Linked DNA regions of Homo sapiens: regions 2 and 3 are each linked to region 1. The links come from fine-mapping of genetic effects on gene expression. A gene starts in region 1. Each other region holds a variant in brackets. All regions are shown on one strand. Distances are from middle to middle. Region 1 holds the start of ZFAND3 (zinc finger AN1-type containing 3). Region 2 overlaps ZFAND3 (zinc finger AN1-type containing 3). Region 3 overlaps ZFAND3 (zinc finger AN1-type containing 3).

What was found. PIP is the estimated chance that this variant, and not a neighbour inherited with it, causes the effect. A credible set is the group of variants that fine-mapping cannot tell apart.
Region 2: its variant is the best candidate, but not a certain one, in a credible set for the expression of ZFAND3 in whole blood (TOPMed, PIP 0.69).
Region 3: its variant is the best candidate, but not a certain one, in a credible set for the expression of ZFAND3 in whole blood (INTERVAL, PIP 0.77).

Annotation. Positions count from the first base shown.
Region 1 is chr6:37,815,155-37,823,163 of GRCh38, forward strand. ZFAND3 (zinc finger AN1-type containing 3) reads left to right here and starts at 4,573. Exons shown (of 6, transcript NM_021943.3): 1 at 4,573-4,862. The coding sequence starts at 4,792. It overlaps ZFAND3-DT (ZFAND3 divergent transcript), which reads right to left and starts at 4,233. Exons shown (of 2, transcript XR_007059569.1): 1 at 3,424-4,233; 2 at 1,160-3,336. RefSeq lists enhancers at 3,780-4,169, 4,139-4,941 and silencers at 4,220-4,599, 4,640-4,869, 5,030-5,199.
Region 2 is chr6:37,972,268-37,980,276 of GRCh38, forward strand. All of the region lies in intron 2 of ZFAND3 (zinc finger AN1-type containing 3), which reads left to right. Among named protein-coding and RNA genes, the nearest start is that of ZFAND3, 160 kb to the left of the region's middle. The variant A/G (reference allele first, on the strand shown) is at 4,167.
Region 3 is chr6:37,930,268-37,938,276 of GRCh38, forward strand. All of the region lies in intron 2 of ZFAND3 (zinc finger AN1-type containing 3), which reads left to right. Among named protein-coding and RNA genes, the nearest start is that of ZFAND3, 110 kb to the left of the region's middle. The variant G/A (reference allele first, on the strand shown) is at 4,919.

The sequences.
Region 1 (8,009 bases):
GGCTTAGTAGTCCCTGAATTAGGCAACAAGAAATGTGACTGGGCAGGGTCTCTGCCTCCTGCTCTGGTCACAGATGCCCCACTTTCTCTTTCCTGGCAGCCCAAGGCCTTGGATCCAACCTGGATTATTGAAATTGGCTCTCATTCTCTCCAGAGGTCCAGGATGTTATAGGGTTCTCTGCTCTCATTCGTCAGTCAGGGTCAAGGGACCCAAGAAAAAGGAGCTAGGGAAAATAACTCAGTGGCAAGGCAAAGAGCCTTTGTTAAGCTCATAAAACTAGAGTTGGGAACTGAGATTAAATTTTACAGATAATATTAGGATTAGAATTAAATCTAGAGTTTGGATTGGACATTGGGGCTAATACTAGGTTAGGATGGATTATAATGATGACAAGTTTTGAACTGAGAGTGAGTTTCAAGGGTAGGGATTAGAATTAGAGTGGAGGATCATCTGCTTTCTCTCAGGTCTCTACAAGTCCCTTCTTTTTGGTAAAGTCTTCCAGGGCTAAGTAGGTCTTTTGAATTCTTACCAAGAAGGCAGCCATTGTTTGCTCCTGACCTTGAATCATACCAGGCTCTTTTCTATACACCCTCAGTTCCTACTTCAAAAGCTCTGGCTGCTGAAGAATTAATATTATCCTTTACTAGACCCCACTGAGCACGTAGATGGCTCCTTTTGGGCCAATGGTGATTGCAAACTACTCCCAGGAGTCACATCACAGGTTCATCTGGAACATAATACACGACAGAAAATAGTCAAGACAATTACGACAAAAGCACTCTGCCAATTACCCCCACACTTTGCTCCCCTAATTTGATGATGCCCTGAAATTTTATGTCCTCTCTGAGCTTTCAGTCAACTAAGTGGGCTTGTTATAGGAATTGGATCAAGGGCTCTATAGATAGAGACACTGGGAACTAAGAGTAAAGAGTTATCTGGCTAGGAACGTCATAAGCAGCAGCTAAATACTGTCTCATCTCATACAACTTCAGTGTGACAAAAAAGCTGGCAGCCTTGTGATGAATGAGGTCAGAAAAAAAAAAAAGCAGAGAGCTTCAATGTCTTCTAGGGAGGGTGGGTTGGTAACTAAGACATTCCCCCAGGATTGTCTAACTATGACTCCAATCCATTTGTGGGTCTCACATTGACTAACAAATTATTGTGCTTTTATTCATACAACATTTATTGAACGCCTCCCAAATGCACCTTGAGTATTGTGTATATCACAGTAAACAAAACAGACATGATTTTTGGAGAGGAGACTCACAAATACATATTTAAACTATGATAGGTACTATAAAGAAAAAGAGTGCCATGTAAGATAATAATGGGGCCACCAAATTTTGATTGGGGCTTGGGTCAGGGATGACTTCTTTGAAGGAGTTCCATTTAAATTCAGGTCTGAATTTGTTTAAGTAGGAGTCAGTCTGTTGAAAATCCTTAACATGTCAATTGTTCTTTATGCTTTTGAAGTTCAGCTGCAATTTACTCCTTTATGGTCTGTGGTGGACATTTTTTGGAATCTTTGCCAAGTACATAACTTTGAGAACATAGCCTACAAAGATGGGGTTCTGGCAGCCATGTCTGCTTTACAAAACAAAAAGACCTGACTACATAACTGCCCTGTTGGTCAAAGGTGATTGTACCAAGAGTACACAAGCGGACATAAATCGAACCAATCAGTTTCTTTCTCCTGGGGATTGGGATTCATAGATACTAATTAGTCTCTGTTTGTTCTTGAAGTGAGGCTGGGTAAACCTGGATTACGTTCCCAAAAAAGCAGTGAAAACAGCTCTGCCGAGATTATAAAGCAGCTTTGTAGAGAGAAGCAGAGATGGAAGAACCTGTAACCAGAGAGAAAAAGATATCGAAAAAAACCAAACACTTGGCTTCCTGTTGATGTATTAGGTACCTATTTCAGTCCTTCATGCGATCTTACTGCTCTCTGTGTCCTTGGGTTGTATAAGATTATCTCCTTGTGTTGTGTGTATACATATAAAGAGAAAAGGCAGCTGAAGCAGTCAGGAACAGGAGGACAAAGGAATGGAGATGTGGGAAAGCAAGGTATTTGAGGAATGGCAACTAGTGTCTGCTTCGCAGAGTGAATAGAGAAGAGTAGAAAATGAAGTCTGAGAGGAAGACTGGAACCAAATTATCTACATTATATGTAGGGACCTGCTGGTGAATGCTACATTTTATTAATCCTTTTAGTCTCCAGAGTGCTTAGCAAAGTCCTTGTGTATACTGGGTACTGAATAAATGTTTGTTGAATAACTGGCAAACAGGAAAGCAGTTTGGAAAATGACAATCACTTTTTATGTTGAATTCTCCTTTTAGTTGTCGAGTTTCCTTTTCTGTACATAAAAGAAAATCATCAAGATGCCAAGAGAGATAATCCCACTTAATCTTTGTTAAACTCAAAGGCTGTTAAGTATCTCACGCATGTGGGAATTTTATGTCGGCTTAAATGAAGATTTAAGGGTAATATGAATCCAATGAGAGCAAGGTGTGCTGTATGGCTTTATCCTTTCTATGCATTTTTTCTTTCTTTCTTTCTTTTTTTGAGACAGAGTTTCGCTCTCGCTCTTGTTGCCCAGGCTGGAGTGCAATGGCATGATCTCGGCTCACTGCAACACCCGCCCTCCGGGTTCAAGCGATTCTCCTGCCTCAGCCTCCCAAGTAGCTGGGATTACACGCGTGCCACCATGCCCGGCTAAGTTTTTGTATTTTTTTTTTAACTAGCGACGGGGTTTCACCATGTTAGCCAAGCTGGTCTCGAACTCCTGACCTCAGGTGATCCACCCGTCTTGGCCTCCCAAAGTGCTGGGATTACAGACGTGAGCCACAGCGTCCGGCTTTTTCTATGCACTTTCTTACAGATATACTTATTGAAGGCTTTGGAAAATCCACCAAATTAAAACTAAACATTGTGCATAATAAATCAGCACTCACATTTTAGGGTGTTTTGGCTTTAAGTGCTTGATTTTTGCAATCATTAACTTCACCATCAACAGCATCTGTGGCATATTAAGCTAAATGCGATCCTTGCTCTTTAGAGGCCAAAATAAACATCAATGTTAACAAACCCACACAGTATGCACAAACAGAAATGTGATTTGGTATATAAAGAAATAAGATAGCAACATTTGGTAATCAAATTAATCTAGGTAATAGTCTCTCTGAGGCTCTGATATACCCGACAGGCAAGGAGGGTATACGGCAGCTATTCCTAAGAGCCAGGAAGTCTTCCTCAGCGATGGGTCTCCAAAAGGTCTGGAGGATGTTGCCTCCGTGTTGAATTAGTCATCAATAATCGATTTCTCTGTTCATGACTAACTGGAGATCAGAATGAGCTCAGGATCAAGGACTAGGATCGTTAAAGGACTCATTTTTTTAGTGTCTCAAACTTCTTTGGTCACTTACCAATTTCCATTACTGATTCAGCTACAGCTCCCCTTTCCCCTCCAAAAACCAAACGTGTCAGCTGTAGGAAGAAGTGCGGCTCTCCTAGCCTGGGCATAGGGACTCGCCTGGGCATAGATAATGTACTTGTGGCTCTGTGGTTGGGAGTGGAGACAAGGAACTCCCCAACACCGGTGGGGGAGAAGAGACAAGGAAGTTGCCCCAGACAAGGGGCTGGGGGAGGGGCATTTCCCAAAAGTTCCTGTCAAGAGACCAGTATACCGGGTGGAACTATAAGAGTTGTTTGGGTGTGGCGGGACCAGGAAGAGAGAGAGAGATGCCCAGGGAGTTGGCAAATTGGGGAGAATGGCTCCCCGGAATCGCCCAGGAGCCAGAGCGGCAGCTCCAGGGACCTTGACTCCGACGCCCCCGGGAAGCCAGAGCTCCACTTCCGCGTTTGGCATTGCTCCCCCAGGCCCCTCCTCGCACTCGGTTACGGGTTCTACGGGCGCATGCGCCGCCACTCTGGGACTGGCCCAATTTACCCTACACAACTAATCTGCTCCTCCCCCTCCCGCTTGGAGCGCACCATTCGCGTTTAGGGGGAGGCACCGCGCCCCGGAGTACTCAGAAACCTGCTCCCCTTCTTCAGACAGGGGGAAGATAAGTTTGCTTCAGATTCTAAAAGTTCTAAGAATACGAAGGCCTCAGCCGCCCGTCGCCGGGCGACAGCCCGAGGCTCTCGTTTTCTCCCACAGCCCCGCACTCCGCCTTTGAGGCGCGGAACGAAGTGGCACGCCCGGATCCCAGCTGATCAGCGGCTGGGCTTTGGCGTTGGCTCCCCCGGGCGAGACCATTGTGACTCCTCGGGAGGGGCGCACGCCGGGGAGGGGGCGGAGCGGCCATTGTCCGGTCAGCGCAGCCTCCGGGGGAGGGGACGGTGTTACGGAGACAGCAGGGCCCGGGGCTTCAGAGCGGCCGCTGCGACTCCGGAGCCGGCGGGGGGCTCCGGTCCTTCCCTGCGCCACCGCACAGGACATCTCTCTGGCTGGGGAGCGGCGGTGAGACCCGCCGAGGGCGTCTGTGTCCCTCCTCCCCCGCGGTCCTCGGTGCGTCCGCACGCCCCTCCTCCTCGGCTCCCTCCTTCTTCTCTCCGCGCCTCTCCGCCCCCTCCCCGTCTCCGCAGGCCGAGTGGTGCGGCCCGCCTCCAGCTGACCGGCCTGGAATCCCGGCTCCGAGCCCCGGACTCGCGCCCGCCCGCGCGCCCGCTCCTTCCCCCTCCCCCCGCCCCGAGCCCCCCGACGCCGCCGCCACCGCCTCCTCAGAGCGGGGCCCGGGCCCAGCCGCCGCCACCGCTGCCGCCGCCGAGCTCCGCCGCCGCCGAGCACCATGGGAGACGCTGGGAGCGAGCGCAGCAAAGCGCCCAGCCTGCCGCCTCGCTGTCCCTGCGGCTTCTGGGGGTAAGTGCCCGGCCGGGTGGGGGCGGGGGGCGGGGGCCGGGGGCGCAGACGCCAGGGCAGCCTGGGCAGGCCTCGGGGCCCGGGAGGCCGGAACCTTGGAGGCTGGGCCCAGCCCGGGCCTACGGGGAGGGGGTGGGGGTCGCGTTCCGGGGAGGGGTGCCGGGTGGGGAGCTGGGGGTGGGCAGAGAAGGCCCTGCCGGGGGTGCGTTGCTACCCTTTGGGACTCGCCGGCCTGAAGCTCGGGCCCACGGGGGCCTCCTGGGCCACGGGTGAGGGGGGCAGGGCGGCGGGGAGGGATGAGGGGGCGGCGTTGACCGCTCCGGGAGGAGCAGGGGTGCCCCTTCCGTGGGCATGTGGAAGCCAGCCCTTCCTCCCTCCCGGGGCGTGAGTTGGTGCCCAGGCACTAGGAGGGTATTTCCTCTGACTTCTTCACCTCCCCTCCTCCCCGTCCTCCGGAGACTTGCATCATCACTTCCTAGATTATATCCCAGTGCCCCATTTGCTTTTAGGAAGCTATTCACACGTCACCCGTTTGTAAAAACCGAGTCCAGAACCAGGCTGGGGTAAAGTTATAAGATTGTTGAGGTCTCACCTTCATGTAAAACACGTTTCAGGAGATATGTAAAATTTCCTTGTCAAAAAGGAAGAAAAAAACCACACAAAACCTGAAGTCAGCCTGGATTGGGGAATATGAGATCCAGTTTCCTCAGTTGGCTCTCAAATTCTCCTCTTTCTCAATTTAAGTAAAAATGATAAAAATGTTGACAGTGGGTAGCATATATTGTTTGGCCATCATGTGTTAAGGCGAAAAAAATGTGAGGTGGGAAATCAGCTCCTCTTCCTCCCCCCATTACTGTTTAAATTCTCCTGGTAACACTTTAAGCTTCATGGATTGCCACCTAACAGGTGCCTCCATCATACCACATGACTGTAGTTCTGCAGTAAGAAAGCTGGAGACTTTGAAGGCTGGCTTTTGTGATTTGAGTCCCTTTTCTCTTTTATCGTTTTGTTTTAGTTTTATTTTTTGAGAGATTCCGTATATTTGGAGACATAGAGGCAGGAAGGAAGATTGTTTCTGGTGAGGACATCTTGGGAAGAAGTATGGAAGTAGTTTTCCCTTTGCTATCTCCCATATTGTAGGAATGGTTAACAGAAATTAAGAGTAATTTTGGGAGTGCAGAGAAAGATTAGAAAGTGGATCTTAATGTAGACTTCTGTGGAAGTTGTCGTATCTCAAGGTTATGACAAAGAAGTGGATTTTCATTTTCTCATTTTTCTGCCTTTCTCAAAAATTTCCCTGTGGAAGGACATTAGTCAAAAATAAGTTGTGGCATATAAAAAGTCCTAAAAATGTGAAAATATTTCTAGTCTTCCCTTCATTTTGATTTGAAAATAATTGGTTTGCCTGTGAAGTGCTTTCATGGACTGTCTAATTCCCACAAGAATCTTGCGAGGTAGGAACCATTATCTCATTATTAGCTGGGGAAACTGAGGCTTTGGGTGGATAATTTGCCGCTTCACACAGGGAGTGTAGGGTGGAGCTGGTGAGCTCTTTAGAGTGCGTAGTACCATCATGTTTATGGTATCAGTCTGCTGCCCTGGAAAAATCTTGTGTCACAAGCCTCAGATTGTAACTCATTGTAAGACATATGTCCTAAAGAAAGTCGCTGCCAGTGGCAGCTAATGCTCAGGATGTATCAGGTCTCTTTCCTGGCAACACGTTTATGTCCTTCGGACTGTTACCATGAATGGAATCTTTATCGAAAGACTTATATCAAGGCTTAGAAACTAAGGAAATGGAATAGCCTTTTACCTTTATTTATTTATTTATTTTTGAGTCGGAGCCCTGCTCTGTTGCCCAGGCTGGAGTGCAGTGGCGTGATCTCGACTTACTGCAGCCTGCACCTCCCGGGTTCAAGCAGTTCTCCTGCCTCAACCTCCCAAGTAGCTGAGACTGCAGGTGCACACCACTATGTCCGGCTAATTTTTGTGTTTTTTAGGAGAGACGGGATTTTGCCATGTTGGCTAAGGTGGTCTCAAACTTCTGACCTCAGGTGATCTGCCTGCCTTGGACTCCCAAAGTGCTGGGATTACAGGCATGAGCCACCGCGCCCGGCCAGCCTTTTACCTTTAGCCGGTAGGGTTCTGATAATGCCAATAGAGTTTGGTGGCAGCAGACAGGAAAAGTTACACTAATGTTGTACTTGACCTATAAGCAACCAGGGCTTCTTTTTAGATATTTTCAGTCTGATACTTTTTATGAACTTCAGTTTACCTAGCAGGAGTAGTGACCACAAAACTAGTATTTTTATCGTGAAAAGTGTTCTTTTTGGTGCAATGTTTTAACCTTTCCTAAGGACGTTTGTAGACAATTGTGTAGTTTGTATTTTATACCAAAGCATAGCAACATTGCCGCCTTGTTTCCATCGTATCACAACTGACTTTGGACATGTTTCCCTTACTGTATGGGCCACATTCATATTTTGTTCACTGAGTAAACTTAGAATATATTTAACAGATATTTGAATGCCTGTGATATAATGGTGGGCAAGGAGGTGCTGGCCCCATACTCTGGGGCAGGGGGCACAGGGAAGTAAACTGACAGTTGCAATACGTTGTACAGGTGCTCTAGGGGAGGGGCACCTACCCTAGCTGGGGTGGAGGTAGAGGAAAGTAGCCTGGAGAAAGTGACACTTTAGCCTAGACCCACAGGAAGGGTAGAAGTAGAGTATGGAAACAAATATTCCTTTCAGGCAGTGGGACTAACATGGGTGAAGGCCGGGATGTGAGTGAGAGCACTACTCATTTGAGGAACAGGTTTGTTGGGTCTGTTGATAGATTGTGAAGGGGGATCACAATCTAGAGATAAGGGGGTCTGTTGGTAGATTGTGAAGGGTGATCACAATCTAGAGATAAGGCTGGGGAATTGAGAGGAATTGGTGATCCAGGGCCCTCATAGCATTGTAATGCTGAGGACTTTGGACTTTTATCCTGAGTGCAGTGAGGAGCTACTCAAGAACTTTGATCAGGGAGTGATGTATATCTTTAATGTGAAAGACTATTGGTGGTTCTTGAGAATGGCTTGGGTGTGTGGGTATGACTCTGTGTGTCTGTATGAATGTGATATACGTGTTTCCGTGGAACGTT
Region 2 (8,009 bases), 160 kb after region 1:
AAGCTGGGTTTAGCACATAAGCCCCACTCTAAGAGCATTAATTCACCAACCCAGTCTTTCTATTTTGTCAGCCACTCAAAGTTTATACTTGCCTCTGTGAGGCTTCAGAAATAATGGATAAATCTTCTGTTAATGAAAATACACCTCCAGATATAATATTCACACTAAGTGTGGTGTTAGAATAACAGATATGGCTCCTCAGTAGTTTTTGGACTCTTGTAGGTATATGGAATTGTGAGACTGTTCATTTTGAGGATCTGTAAAGAGTTAGGACTTACCAGGTATGATTTGAAACACTCAAGATTGTCTCTTGGAGTCTCACACAACAGCTATTATTTTATTTGAATGAGATTATTAGCAGATTGATAGTTGGACCAGGTGCTATACTTTATGCCCTCTCTTCCCTTTGTAAGGTTTTCAGGCCTATTAATTTTTTTTTTTTTTTTACACCATTGGGGTAAGATTTTATTTTGGCTGAAGGTACTTAAAATGGGTGGGTGAGTGATAGATAATATTTGTCTTCACTATTGGCTGTAAACTGGGATTAGAGTAGATTTATTTATTTATTAAGCAGTCAACTAGAAACAAGTGCTGTGAAGTCAATAATATATGGCTTTAGTGAAGATTCCACTTAACTGAAAGTAGACCTGAATTATTCATGCAATTTGCCAACATTTATATCCATTAATAAAGTGGTAGTTTATTTTGAAAAAAACTTTGCACTTACTGAGTTTTTGTTGGCATTTCCCTCCCTCGAGTTCATTTGTCAAAGTCATCATGAATATACTGTTAGTATATTCATGGCTTTTGATTGTTTCACTGCTTTTTCTTAGTTTCTGAGTTGCTGATTTGGTAAAACTGTCATGATTTTCTTTGTCAGTTTTCAAATGTTGCAAAGGGGGCAGAACAACTTTGAGTCCCATAGATGATTGATGGTGCTTTGCAAGTAGTTAAATACACCCAAGGTAAAGGAAATTTTATGGGATTAAAAAAATTCTATGCTCCATTCTAGGTTGATAGTATTTGAAGCAAATTTCATTTCATTGGTGGGTGGCCTCAGTACCTAAACTTTAAAAAGCATGGATTCATAAAACTGTTACAACACCACTTATGAAAGTTTCTGAAGAACTAAAGAGTTGTTAAAAAGCTACTGTCTTTCTCTAAACTTGGTTACTGTGGAGTAGCACTGTCTGATGCAACTTTTTGTAATGATAGAAATGTTCTCTATCTGTGCTATCCAACATGGTAGCTACATGTGGTTATTGAACACTTCAGGTGTGGCTAGTGTGACTTAGGAACTGCATTTTCCATTTTATTTAATTGTAGTTAATTTAAATAGCCACATGTGTCTATTGCTTTCTGTATTAGATAGCACAGCTCTGAAGCATTACACTGAGTACTTAAGCTAAGCTAGTGTTTCTGAGAGAAAGTGATCCTTTGTGATTTTCCTGAAGCTGAAGAAGGCCTGTGTATGGCCTGGAGTCAGAAATTGTTGTGACTTTTCTTGATTTTTTCATGAAATAATTTAAGGACTGTCTTTTCTTTCAAATCTGGGAAAATTCTGAAATGTTCTTTCTCATCTACTTAGAAAGCATTTACTATCACCTTTGACGAGCAATACAGTGGCCAGTATATTGTGTTGTAGGTTTGATTAGTTCTCTATCTCAGAGAGACAGCTTTAGTGACCGAGAGTTTATTGCCTATCTGCAGGAAAATAATAAAGTTTTCCTGTACTCAAAATTGCCAGACTTGGAAGTAGAAATAGCAGCTTTTGCCTTTCTACAACAAATAATTATTCTTTTGGCTAATTCCCATACCTGCCACCTTTACCTTCATTATTTTCTCTGAAAAAGAAATCTGGGCTCATTGCAACCTCTGCCTCTCCCCTAGGTTCAAGCGATTCTCATGTCTCAGGCTGCCGAGTAGCTGGGATTGCAGGCGCCTGCCATGACACCTGGCTAATTTTTGTATTTTTTAGTAGAGACGGAGTTTGACCATGTTGGCCCAGCTGGTCTCGAACTTCTGACCTCAAGTGATCTGCCCTCCTCGGCCTCCCCAGACTGCTGGGATTACAGGCGTGAGCTACCGTGCCTGGCCTGAAATCATGCATTATATACTCTCTCTCTCTCTCTCTCTTTTTTTTTTTTTTTTTTTGGAGACAGGGTCTAGCTGTGTTGTTCAGGCTGGAGGGCAGTAGCGTGATCACACCTCACTGCAGCCTCAACTTTCTAGATTCAGGCAATCCTCCCACCTCAGCCTCCTGAGTACCTGGAGCTACAGGCGTGCGCTCCAACACCTGGATAATTTTTGTAGAGATAGGGTCTTGCTGTGCTGCCCAGGCTGGTCTCAAACTCATGGGCTCAAGCGATTGTCCCACCTTGGTCTCCCAAAGTGCTGGAATTATAGGTGTGAGCCACCATGACCAACTATATATACTCTTGTTTGGTCTGGCTACTTTCACTCAGCATATTTTGAGATTCATCTATGTTGTTGTCTATATCAATAGTTCATTCTTTTCTTTTGCTAAGTAGTATTCCATTATGTGGGTAGTACTACAGACTGCCTAATCCATTTATTAGTTGATGGACATTTGGTGGCTTTGAGCTCCTGAACTCATGTAGTCCTCCTACCTCAGCCTCCCAAGTAGGTAGGAATATAGATGTGTGCCACTATGTCTGGCTATCACATAAATGTCTTTATATGGATGTATATTCCTTTGCTTCTGGGTAAATGCCTGCAAATGAAATGGCTGATCATATCATAGGTTGTATGTTTTAACTTTTTAAGAAACTGCCAAACTTTTCCAAAGTGGTTATATTGTTCAACATTCCTACCAGCAGTGTATGGAAGTTTCAGTTCCTCCATATCCTCACCAACACTTAGTATGGTTAGTCTTTTTAATTTTAGACCTTCTAATAGGTGTGTACTGATTCCTCATTATGGTTACAATTTGCATTTCTCTAATGACATTGAGCATCTTTTCATGAGCTTATTGCCATCCATGTATCTTCTTTGTTCAACCGTTGAAATTTTTTTGCCTATTTTTAAATTGGGTTTTTTTCTTTTGTTACTGATACTATTAATATCCTTTATTCTGGATACAAATCTTTTTCATATTTATGTTTGCAAAGATTTTTTCTTGCTCTTTGACTTGTCTTTTTTATAACAGTGAGTTTTGAAGAGAAGTTTTTCATTTCAATGAAGTTCAGTTTATCCATTTGTTCTTTATGCTTTTAAATATTTTTTCTGCATTTTCTTCAGGAAGTTTCATAGTTTCAGGGTTTATATTTATACTGATGATTTATGTAAATTTTTATATATGATATGGAGGTATACATCTGAGTTTATTATTTTCAAGCACCAGTAGTTGAAAAGGCTATCTTTCTTCACACTGCAGTGCCTTTGGGACTTTGTCAAAAGTCAGTTGTCCATATATGTGGGGGTTTTTTTTCTGGAGTTTATATTCTGTTGCATTGATCTGTTTGTCTGCTTTATGCCAATACCTCTTTTGATTACATAAACTTTATAATAATTCTTGAAATCAGGTAGTGTTAATCCTTCAACTTTATTTTCAGAGTTGTTTTGGCTATTCTAGGCCCTTTTTATTTCAATATGAGTTTTAGCATCAGTTTGTCAGTTTCTCCCAAAAATCCTGCTGGATTTGTGGTTGGGATTGCTGTGAATGTGTAGATTAACGGGAAAATTTACATCTTAACAATGTTGAGTCTTTCAATCTATGATAGAAGTGATCTCTCTTTAGGCCTTCTTTAATTTCTCTCAGCAAAATTTCATATTTTTTGTTGTATAGGTCTTTCACATGTTTTGTCAGATTTATCTCTAAGAAGTTAATATTGTTGATGCTACTTTAAAGGGTATTTAACCTTTGAAAATAGTATGTGATGGTTCATATATTGATTTTGTATCTGTAAACTTGGTAAACTTATTAGTTATAGTAACTTTATTATTTATTCATTGGGTTTTCTATAAAGATGTATTAGTCCATTTTCACACTGCTGTAAAGATACTACCAGAGGCCAGGCGTGGTGGCTCATGCCTGTATTCCCAGCACTTTGGGAGGCCAAGGTAGGTGGGTCAGTTGAGGTCAGGAGTTTGAGACCAGACTGACCAACATGGTGAAACCCTGTCTCTACCAAAAAAAGACAAAA[A/G]TTATCTGGGAATGGTGGCACACACCTATAGTCCCAGCTACTTGGGAGGCTGAGGTGGAAGAATCACTTGAGCCCCGGAAGTAGAGGTTGCAGTGAGCCGAGATTGCGCCACTGCACTCCAGCCTGTGTAACAGAGTGAGACACTGTCTCCAAAAAAAAAAAAAAAAAAAAAAGATACTACCCGAGACTGGGTAATTTATAAACAAAAGAGGTTTAATTGACTCACAGTTCTGCATGAACAGGGAGGCCTCAGGAAACTTACAATAATGGTGGAAGGCAAAGGAGAAGTGAGGCATGTCTTACATGGTGGCAGGTGAGAAAGAGGAAGGGCCACACTTTAACACCATGAGCTCTTGTGAGAGCTCCCTCACTATCATGAGAACAGCATGGGGGAAACCACCCCCATGATCCAGTCACCTTCCACCAGGTCCCTTCCTGGTGGGGACACGTGGGGATTACAATTTTAGATGATATTTGGGTGGGGACACAGAGCCAAACCATATCACCAGACAATCATGATGTTTGTGAATGAAGACAGTTTTACTTCTTTCTCTCCACTTTAGATACCTTTTATGGTCATGTGTCTCTTAATTGTGAGGATGCATTCAGAGAAATGCATTGTTAGGCAATGTCATCATTGTGCTAACATCATAGAGTATACTGCACCAAATACTGTAGGCAATTGTAACACAATGGTAAATATTTTAGTATCTAAACATAAGTAGAAAAGGTATAGTAGAAATATAATCTTATGGGACCCTCATTGTATATGTGGTCTGTCATCGACTGAAATGTTGTGTTACGTCGTATAACTGTATTTCTTTTCTCACATGATTGTACTGGTTAGACTCTTCAGTACTATTTATTTATGTATTTATTTATTTTTGAGACTGAGTCTCGCTCTGTCGCCCAGGCTGGAGTGCAGTAGCACGATCTCAGCTGACTGCAACCTCTGCCTCCCGGGTTCAAGTGATTCTCGTGCGTTAGCCTCCCGAGTAGCTAGGATTACAGGTGCCCACCACTACGCCTGGGTAATTTTTGTATTTTTAGTAGAGACGGGGGTTTCACCATGTTGACCAGGCTGGTCTTGAACTCCTGACCTCAAGTGATCCGCATGCCTCAGCCTCCCAAAGTGCTGGGATTGCTTACGGACATGAGCCACTGCACCCAGCCTACAATGTTGAATAGAGGTGGTGGGAGCAAACGTCCCTTTCTGTTGCTGATCTAAGAGGGCAAGCTTTCAGTCTTTCACCAGTAAGTATGAGATTAGCTATAGGTTTTTCACAGATGCTCTTGATTAGGTTAAGGAAGCCCCCTTTTATTTCTGGTTTGCTGAGTTTTTTGTTTTTTTTTTTTTTCAAATGAAGAATGAATGTTGAATTTTGTAAAATGCTTTTCCTTCCTTCCTTCCTTCCTTCCTTCCTTCCTTCCTTCCTTTCCTTCTTCCTTCCTTTCTCTCCTCTCCTCTCCTCTTCCTTTCTTCCTTTCTTCCGTTCTTCCTTTCTTCCTTTCTTCCTTTCTTCCTTCTCACTCTGTCTCCCAGGCTAGAGTGCAGTGGCTTGATCTCAAGCTCACTGCAACTTCCGCCTCCTGAGTTCAAGTGATTCTCCTGCCTCAGCCTCCTCAGTAGCTGGGATTACAGGTGCCCACCTCTATGGCTGGCTAATTTTCGTATTTTTAGTGGAGACACAGGGTTTCACCATGTTGGTCAGGCCAGTCTCGAACTGAGACTGTGCCTGGCTGTAAAATGTTTTTTCTATGTCTGTTGAGATCATGTTGTTTTTCTCCTTTAATTCATTAATATAGTGAATTAATTACACTGGTTGGGTTTCAAATGTTAAAGCAGTCATACAATTTTGGGATAAATTCCGTTTGGTTGTGATACATTCTATTTTTGGATAAAATTTTGCTTAGAATTTTTGCATCTACATTTCATCATGGATGTTGGTCTGTAGTTTTATCTTGTAATGTCTTTGTCTGGTTTTGTTATTAGAGTACTTCTGAACTCATAGAATGAGTTGGAAAGTATTCCCTTCCTCTTTAATTTTCTGTTAGGGGTTTGTTTAGAGTTGCTGTTGTTTCTTCTTTAAATGTTTGATGAGATTCATGAATGAAGCCATCTACACAGGGAGTTTTCTTTGTCAGAGAGTTTTAACTGCAAATGCAATTTCTTTGATAATGATACACGGTTATTCAGAATATCTATTTCTTCTTGAGTGAGCTTGTCTTTTAGTGCGTTTGTCCATTTCCTCTAACTTGTATTTATGGCATAAAGTTGTTTATAACATTTCATCCGTCTCAGCTCACTGCAACCTCTGCCTCCTGGGTTCAAGTGATTCTCATGCCTCAGCCTCCTGAGTAGCAGGGATTACAGGCGCCGGCCACCACACTGGGCTAATTTTTGTATTTTTAGTAGAGATGGGGTTTTACCATGTTGGCCAGGCTGGCCAGCATTTTATGCTTTTAATATGCATAAAACTGTAGTGAAGACACCTCTCATTTCTGATACTGATAATTTGTGTCTTTTTTTTTTTTCTCTAGTCAGTCTGGCTAGACATTTATCAACTTATTGATAATCTCAAAGACCCCTCTTTTGGGTTTCATGGCTTTTTTCTGTTTCATGAATTCTCACTTTAATCTTTATTTCCTTCCTTCTACTTTGAGTTTAATTTGTTCTTATTTTCTTTCTTAAGGTGGGAACTGAGTTTATTGATTTGAAATCTTTTCTAATAAAGATTTAATGCTAAAATTTTTCACCTCGTTACTGCTTCAGTGGCAGCCTGCAAATTCTGCTGTGGTGGTGTTTTAATATCCATCTCTGCTAATTTCAACACCTCTGTCAGTTCTGAGTTGGTTGTGATTATTCTTTTCATGGTGGGTCAAGTTTTCTTACAACTTTGTGTATTTGATTATCTGTGTTTGGGTGGCAGATACTGTGAGATTTACTTTGTTGGGTGCCATGTATTTCTGTAAATGTACAAATCTTGAGCTTTGTTCGAAGATGCAGTTAAGTTACTTGGAAGCAATTTTGTCTTTTGGAATTGTGCTTTTATGGTGTGTGTGTGTTTAAAAGTGGGTTTGGAGAGGTGCTCAATGTAGAGTTAATTGTTCTCTACTTCCAAGATAAAACCTTCTTGAGTACTCTATGCAATGCTCCTGAATTATGAGTTTTTCCAGTCTGACATTGGGCACAGGCACTATTCCTTGCCCTGTCTATGTGCGTCTCAAGCCCTGTCAAAACAATCCATTACGATGGTTCTTTGCCTGGCATCAGATAGTTTTTTCGTATGCATGTGCTGACCTGTACTTGGCTGAATAATCAGGATCCTCTCCTGATATATAACTCTTCCTTGTGTGTTTTTCTGTTCTGTGAACTCTAGCTGCTTTGTTCTCATCAGGCCTCTTAGCTTATTTCCTCAACTTACCACATCTGCTGAGTAGGACCAGCTATATAATTAGCAGGGCCCAGTGTAAAATGAAAATGTGAGCCTTTGTTAAAAAATTATTTAGTTTCTTAAAATTCTAATTTTAATCAGATCATTAAACCAAGCACTGCACCCTTCGGAGCTGCAGCTGCACAGGTTACATGCCTACCAAGCCAGGGCTACTGCTGTACTCCACTTCATGTTCCCTTCTCTGTTCCATGGCCCAGTAATTCTCTTCAAGGCAATAAGCCAAGACAATTGTAGGGCTGGTCTCCTTTGTTTCCCATCTCTCAGAGGTCACTGTCTTTTTTTTTTTTTTTGCTAGATATCCAGAGTCATGAAAATTGTAATTTTTGTCTGTTTTTATTTGTTTTTGTTTCAGGCAGGAAGAGAAATCCAGTCCCTGTTAACCTGCCTC
Region 3 (8,009 bases), 120 kb after region 1:
TAGAACTGTAAAAAATGCGTGCTCATCTTGACTTGAATGATTATTGGTTAATGTTGCTCTATCAATGAGAATGTAACAGAATATTTTCATGTTGGAGTCAGGAAGAGAATCAAGCTGAGTTAGCCCATCATCAGATCCATCATAGAGGCTGCCATGGTGTCTCACGCCTATAATCCCAGCACTTTGGGAGGCAGAGACAGGAGGATTGCTTGAGGCCAGGAGTTTGAGACCAGCCTGGGCAACATAGTGAGACCTTGTCTCTATAAAAACAAAAAGCCTCCTGCAGATCCCTCATTCAAATCACCTCGGGTAAGTCACGTAATCTCTTTGGACCTTGGATTCATCATTATAAAATGAAGGACTTGGGCTTGACATGTGCCAAGGTCCTTTTCTAGCCCCAGAGGTAATTGGTTAACTTCTGGAATTATGACTCCTTCATGAAGTTGAAACTTTTAGGTCTTTTTATTTTTACTTTTTAAAAAACTTTCTATCTAGCGATCCTATATAAATAAGTCTTTGCTAATTAGGATATGTTTAACTTTCCTTCTTTATTCATTTTGTCAAAGGTAAACAAAGCTGCATACTAGCTAAAGTTCTAAGGACAGGTTTTAGTCAGTAATACACTTTTGCAATAGGGAAGAGAGTCCAGTATGAAATGAAGTCAATGTTGATTTGCAGAGATGACTGGGAGTTTTAAAGGGAGAATGGCAGGGGACTTGGCAGGGTGGATAAACGGAATCTGTAGACTCAAAGAAGTGAAGAATTTAAAAAGATTGGTAAAATATGGTGATTAGGCCAGCTGTGCCTGTTAGCTGACACTGTGACTGGGGAATAGATACCCTATTTTTCCTGATGGTTACATTTTTAAAGGAATGGCTTTCAGGTCCTTGAGAAAGACACTCCTGAGTTGTAGGAGTACAGCTCAAAGGGACAGAGGAAGGATTCACAGTTGTAAGCCCTTTTTAGTAAATGATCTAAGAGGATAGTTAGGGCCTATCTTCAGATGCTGGCTAGAACAAACAGTAGATTCTTTGGCAGCCTTGAGCTTTAAGAGGCAGACAATTTGAGAGAGGCTAGGGTCATCCTAGGGAGGTAACCTTGAGCTGTTAGAAATGTTAGTATTTAAAATTAGCTGGATGTGGTGGTGTGCACCTGTAGTCCCAGCTACTCCGGAGGCTGAGGCAGGAGAATTGCTTGAACCTGGGAGGCAGAGGTGCAGTGAGCTGAGATTGCGCCACTGCACTCCATCCTGGTAACAGAGTGAGACTCCGTCTCAAAAAAAAAAAAACAAAAAAAAAACCAACCAAACAAAAAAAAGAAATGTTAGTGTGTGTAAGTCTTTTAATGTGAAAGGAGGGAGTGGACCAAATCATTTGTTTTGAGAGTCTGTAGTTTTTAAAGGTCCAGGTTGAGGCCTGGTCCAGAAGAGGGCTCAGAGGAGGCTGGCTAGATTTTTATTAAAGAGATTTTTTTTGTTGTTGTTAATTTTAATCTATTCATTATGCTATTTGGGCAAGGAAGTAATCATGGTGTAAGCTTTAGACCGTTACATTTGTGCCTAAACTAGGGGTTAGATGGGAAAGAATTGGGGAAGCTGACAGCTTTTATAGGTTCAAAATTTGGAATTTGTCAGATACTTAGGTTTTTAAAAGAAAAGAAATATTGGTGGGTTTTTATTCAGCTTTTAGCAGTATTTGTGCCATGTTAAAGGACTGTATTCAGGCCGGGCGCAGTGGCTCACGCCTATAATCCCAGCACTTTGGGAGGCCGAGGTGGGTGGACCACGAGGTCTGGAGAGCGAGACCATCCTGGCCAACATGGCGAAACCCCGTCTCTACTAAAAACACAAAAATTAGCTGGGTGTGGTGGCCCGTGCCTGTAATCCCAGCTACTCGGGAGGCTGAGGCGGGAGAATCGCTTGAACCTAGGAGGCGGAGTTTGCAGTGAGCCGAGATCACGCCACTGCACTCCAGCCAGAACGAGACTCTGTCTCAAAAAAAAAAAAATAAATAAATAAAAGGACTGTATTCTGCTGCTTACCTTATGTATCTACAATTACAGATATGAAGAAATGCTTCTTCACTGATGAAAGGTTAACTTTATAGTGAAGACGAAAGTAGCAGTGAGACAAAATGTATACAGGTTGAGAACCCCAAATCCCAAATCTGAAATGCTCCAAAGTGCAAATGTTCCAAAATCTGAGAAAAACAAATCCCAACACTTCTGGTCTCAAGCATTTTGAATTAGGGGTACTCAACCTGTATTAGATTATATATTTGTCCCCACATGGAGACCCCATTGTAATTTAGTAAAGTATGGCTTTGGGAGAAGGCCAGACACCTTTGAATAATAAGGTGGTTCACATCAAATACTCCTGAGGAACTATCTTGTGCCCCTAAATGAATACAAAGTTAAAAAAATTTTAACTATGAAGCTAGAGTTCAGCCATGGGCTTTGTGTTTCTTTGGACTTGTTACAGTTTTACTTTCTGTGTTTATAATTATCTGTCTCGTGATCTGTGTCTATTTACATTTTATACAGCCTTGCCATTTTTGCTTTTATAAAAATATTAGGACATTTTCAAGTATCTAAAGAAAATATTCGCTTCTCTCTATATTTTTTACCTACACACTACTGCTTTCTCCAGTTGCATTTGCGTGGCATGACTAGTTAATATCCTGTCTGCTGAAACAGAATTTTATGTACCTTTAGAAATTCAAAAGAAAAGAGATCATTGAACTTTAAAAATACATTTTTGGATGTCATCTCAGTATGAACATAAGGAGAGTATAGTGAATGCAGTATTACAGAAGAGCCATGAGTTTTACAAGACAACATAAAGATTATTTTGGCCAAAGCCACTGTGATCTTAAAAGACTCTTTTTAAAGTATATTGTAAAATGTACAGTGTACTTTAAAAGATGGAAAAATCACTTTTTAAATAGTTATTGTTTGCCACTAGGTTAAACATTTTCTTTTCAAGATTCCTTTTCAAAATCTATGTGGTGAAAAAATTAGTTTGTTATAACTTGTTTACATAAAATTGAATGAAATGGGAAAAACATCTTTAAAGTCTTACCGAGAGAATACGTTGTAGGTTAGGAACTAGGGGTGTGTGTGTTTACTTGGAGAACTGTTTTGCTGCTGGTGAAATATTCTGCTAAGTGGTGAGCACACACCTGACCCAATAGCCATCATTACTTAAGCTGTTTCTCCTTTATAAAATATTCTTGGGATGTTTGAATTTAGAGGAAAGGAATAAGAAAGGAGAAATGAGTATATGCAGAGTGACAGTTGCTAAAAGCCATTGAAATGTTAGTTGCTGGTAAACTATATACCAAATTATAATGCTTCTGTGTATTGTTAGAATGAGAAATGTTTGTATCAGACCTTTGCATGTATGTGGAAGAGGGCCCAACCTGGCTGGGCTGGATTTGCTAAAGACTCGAAGCTCAACCAAAATTCCTCTCTTTGAAATGAGAGAGGTTTTTTTGTTTGTTTGTTTGTTTGTTTTTTAAACTTTTTGACAACTATCTTATCATTAACCCTGGTTTGGCCTCTGTTACCTTTAAAGGCTAAAATCATTTAAGACTGTTTAAAGGATCTCTCTCTCTCATTTTTTTTTTTTTTTTTTTTTGAGACGGAGTTTCGCCCTTGTTGCCCAGGCTGGAGTGCAGTGGCGCGATCTCTGCTTACCGCAACCTCCGCCTCCCGGGTTCAAGTGATTGTCCCGCCTCAGCCTCCCAAGTAGCTGGGATTACAGGCGTGCGCCACCACGCCTGGCTAATTTTTGTGTTTTTAGTAGAGACAGAGTTTCTCCATGTTGGTCACAGTGGCCTTGAACTCCTGAGCTCAGGTGATCCGCCCACCTTGGCCTCCCAAAGTGCTGGGATTACAGGTGTAAGCCACTGCGCCCGGCCCTTTTTTTTTTTTGAGACGGAATCTGGCTCTGTAGCCCTGGCTGGAGTGCAGTGGTGCCATCTCAGCTCACTGCAGCCTCTGCCTCCCGGGTTCAAGCGATTCCAAAGGACTTTTCTTCACAAAGACATTTAAGTATACTTCTTTCTCAGTCTTAAGAGAAAGGCCTTGACCTAGAAACCTTTATCATCCAATATTTTCTATGCCAGGATAACTACGACACTTACAGTTAAGTATTCTGGGGAAGTACCAGGAAGTGATTGACTCAAGTATTAGGATTTGAGGTAAAGTGGACTTAAATTGCTCATCTACATTCTCTTTATCTGAGGTCATTTAGTCTATTTAAAAAAAAAAAAAAAAAAAAGTCCAGACCCGGTGGCTCACGCCTGTAATCCCAGGACTTTGGGAGGCCCCAGGTGGGTGGATGGATCATTTGAGGTCAGGAGTTCGAGACTAGCCTAACCAACATGGTGAAACCCTGTCTCTACTAAAAATACAAAAAAATTAGCTGAGTGTAGTGGTGCATGCCTGTAGTCCCAGCTACTCGGGAGGCTGAGGCAGGAGAATCACTTGAACCCGGTGGGTGGAGGTTGCAGTGAGCTGAGATTGTGCCACTGCATTCCAGCCTGGGCAACAGAGTGAGACTCTGTCTCAAAAAAAAAAAAAAAAAAAAAAAAAAGCAAAAGTTAATCTTACCATACTATATTCTCTCCATTCCTGTAAGAATTCCTATTTGTTATTTTTCTACCTTCCCCGTCAGTCCCCCTTTCACATATTCTGTATTTTCTTTTCTCAAATTACAATTCAGTACATTTGTTTGGAAATGTGGATCTATATCTCTCAAGTCTAAGACTATTGTGTAGGTAGAGAAGCCTGAAATTCCTGGAGTTTGCATAAGGACCTTTTAGTTGATATATAATTCTTCCCAGTCAAAAGTGTTGATTATTTTTATATTATTGCTAAAGAAAGGTTTTGCTTAACAGCTTTGCATTTTGAAGTT[G/A]TGGAGACTTTCTAAACTATTGAAAAGGATGGTATGTAAGCACCCTGGGACATGAGTTATCAATTGATTTTGCCACAAATCTTTCCAATTATCAGAGCTGGTCTGAGGATCTCTTATGGCCTAATTTTGGCTTTTCTTACCCCCTTGATAATATTCTACCTGTCACACTGTCCTTTCATTAAATATTTTTATATTGTTTTATATATGATTTTACTTAAATAAGTAAATGAATATAAAAAGCGAGAAAATTTTATGACATAGTTATGGCAAATTAACATTTATTGGTTGAAATACTACCTCTTAATGCAGTTTTTCAAACTGGGTATTGTCACTCATTAGTGGGTAGACAATTTAATGGGTCATGATTAGTATTTAAAAAATTCTGAGTAGAATAGAAAATATCAGTGTATTGCACATAGTAAAGTTATTTTGTGAAACCTTTGTTTGACTTGCATTGAGTTGAAAATAATGTGTAATGGGTTATAATGTAAATATGTGTATATTACTATTATGATTTTAAGTTTGAAACCCAGTGAACTGCAGGAGTATGGCTTTGGAAAATCTTGGAATCTAATTTGCTTTGTAAAATAGGGAATATTTCATTTGTGTCTTCAGGCAAGAGGTTAATAGTTGATTTCTTGTGATCTTTGTCAGTTCTGAGCTGTTGAGTAGTTTAGAAATGAAGCTTAAACTAGACCCGATAGCCTACTACAGTGTTAAAATACATATGAAAAGTCAAGCATAGAGTCTAATGAATATTCCTGCCTCTTACAAAGGTAGAAATGATACTGCCTATGGTATTTTTTTTTGTTTGAGTGCAAATCCAATTCATGAATTTGTGCATTTTAGTTGACCAGTGTTTAATATTTAGGAATAGTTAGTACCTAATTCATGATGACCTCTTGTTCTAGCATACTGAAGGCCAGCTATCATTAAAGCAGTGCTTTTCACAGAATGGTTTTGCTGACCTCCTAAATAGAAGTGTGGATGGCAGAAGCATCAAAGAGGATGATCACAAGTGGGGAAGGCAGAAATTTTAAAAGAACTGACTGAAGTAACTCCTCTACTAATGTGACACCATCTCTATCCCCCACAAACCCTTGGAAATACTAGTTTTGGGAGAAGAGAGGAGTATGGTGACTAGAAAGTAGCTATAACCTGTTGATCATTGTATACTTTATAAGGCAGTGAGTCAGAAGATATGTTTAAGAAATGGAAGGTTGTTGGAGTAGCTCTGATGACAGATGCTTATCATAAGGCAAACTTAATATATGTTCCACAGTGTTCAGAATACCACTTGGTCGGTGGACTTTTAAATGTGTGCATACTTAATTTTTAATAAACCGTAGACATGGTATATTTAAACATACTGTTTCATTTAAGACTAACTTTTAAGAAATTTGCTATCACGTGGTTCACATATGATGTACAAGTGTATAGTTGCATGAGATAAAGCTGGAAGATGACATGAAAAATTTAATTGTGGTAGTCTCAGAGTAAGAGTAATTGGGGAGCTTTAAATTTTAATTTTGTCTGTGTTTTCAGATTTAAGTATTAATGTAATTGCACAAATTACAAATGTTTAAAAAGTGAAGTGAATTTATACAATCTAGAAGTGGTTTGTTTCTTTCTGGAATGAGCAAAATAAAATTAGCTATCGCCTGCAGCATTGGGAATCTAAGTGTTGACATCTAAGGTGAGTGATATAACAATGCTGGGCGCAGGGTGAAATGGTAGATAAGCCAAAATGCTAACATTTTTCTTGAAAGTGACTTGAGTTTCATGATAGTTCCAGAAGAGGATAACAAATTCCCATTTCATACCAAGTAAATTAAAATATTTCCTTATGAACTTGCAACTTAGTGGTTGCAGTTACATACTAATCTCTTTCCTGCTTTCATTTCCTGTTAGAATACCAGAGTAAAAGTGGTCTGATTCTAGTCACTTTTGAAAAGCAAAGAGTTGTAGGTTACAGCTGAATTTTGAGGCTTTACAGTAAGAGAAACAGAGTGAGTCTGACAAATTTTAAGCTCATATATTTTCCTTTTAGAAATGTAGGAACTCTGCACAAATAATGTAGAAACAAATTACCAATTTCAATACAAAAAATTTTGCAGGATAGTGGAATTTGTAAGCTTGTCATACCTTGATTTTTTGAATTCACCTTTTCCCAAAAGAAAGCAACTGTTGGCCAGGCACAGTGGCTCATGCCTGTAATCCTAACACTTTGGAAGGCTGAGGTGGGCGGATCATGAGGTCAGGAGATCGAGACCAACCTGGCCAACATGGTGAAACCCCGTCTCTACTAAAAATACAAAAATTAGCTGGGCCTGGTGGCACATGCCTGTAATTCCAGCTACTTGGGAGGCTGAGGCAGAAGAATCGCTTGAACCAGGGAGTCGGAGGTTGCAGTGAGCCGAGATCACGCTGCTGTACTCCAGCCTAGCGACAGAGCGAGACTCCGTCTCAAAAAAAAAAAAAAAAAAAAGGCAAAAAAAGTAACTGCTGCTCTTAAGACGAAGTGTTTGAATAGAGTATTTCTGTTTTTGTAATCTTTTTGACTTGATTGCTTTTGTATACTCTTTGATTTCTTCTAAGCCAGACGCCCAAGAGGGATTTCTCGTGTAACACACACACACATTTTGGTCATGTGTTTGTTAAAAGGGGACAGCTCAACTTACCAGGCTCTTCTTAACCATTATGTGTCTGTTGGTAGGTATCTGTTGGATGGTTGGGTGTCTGACATTCAGAATATCCACAAACCCACCCAGAAGTAACAAATGTTAATGTTTTGCCTTTTTTCTTATCACACTAAAAAGGGCACTAAAATGTCACAGTTTTCTTTTACCCTAGTCATCATCTTCCCAACTCAGAGACAACTACTCTCCTTCTTATCCTTGTATTTACACTTTTTATTATGAATGGGCATTTATATAAATATTGTTATGATTCTGTTTTTAAAATGTTTAAATGGTATTTTGTACTAGTCTACAACCTGTATTCTTTTAAATAATGCTTTTAGAAACTAATCATGTTGACACGTTGCTCTTGTTCATTTTAACTATAATATTCCATTATAATTAATGTCTAG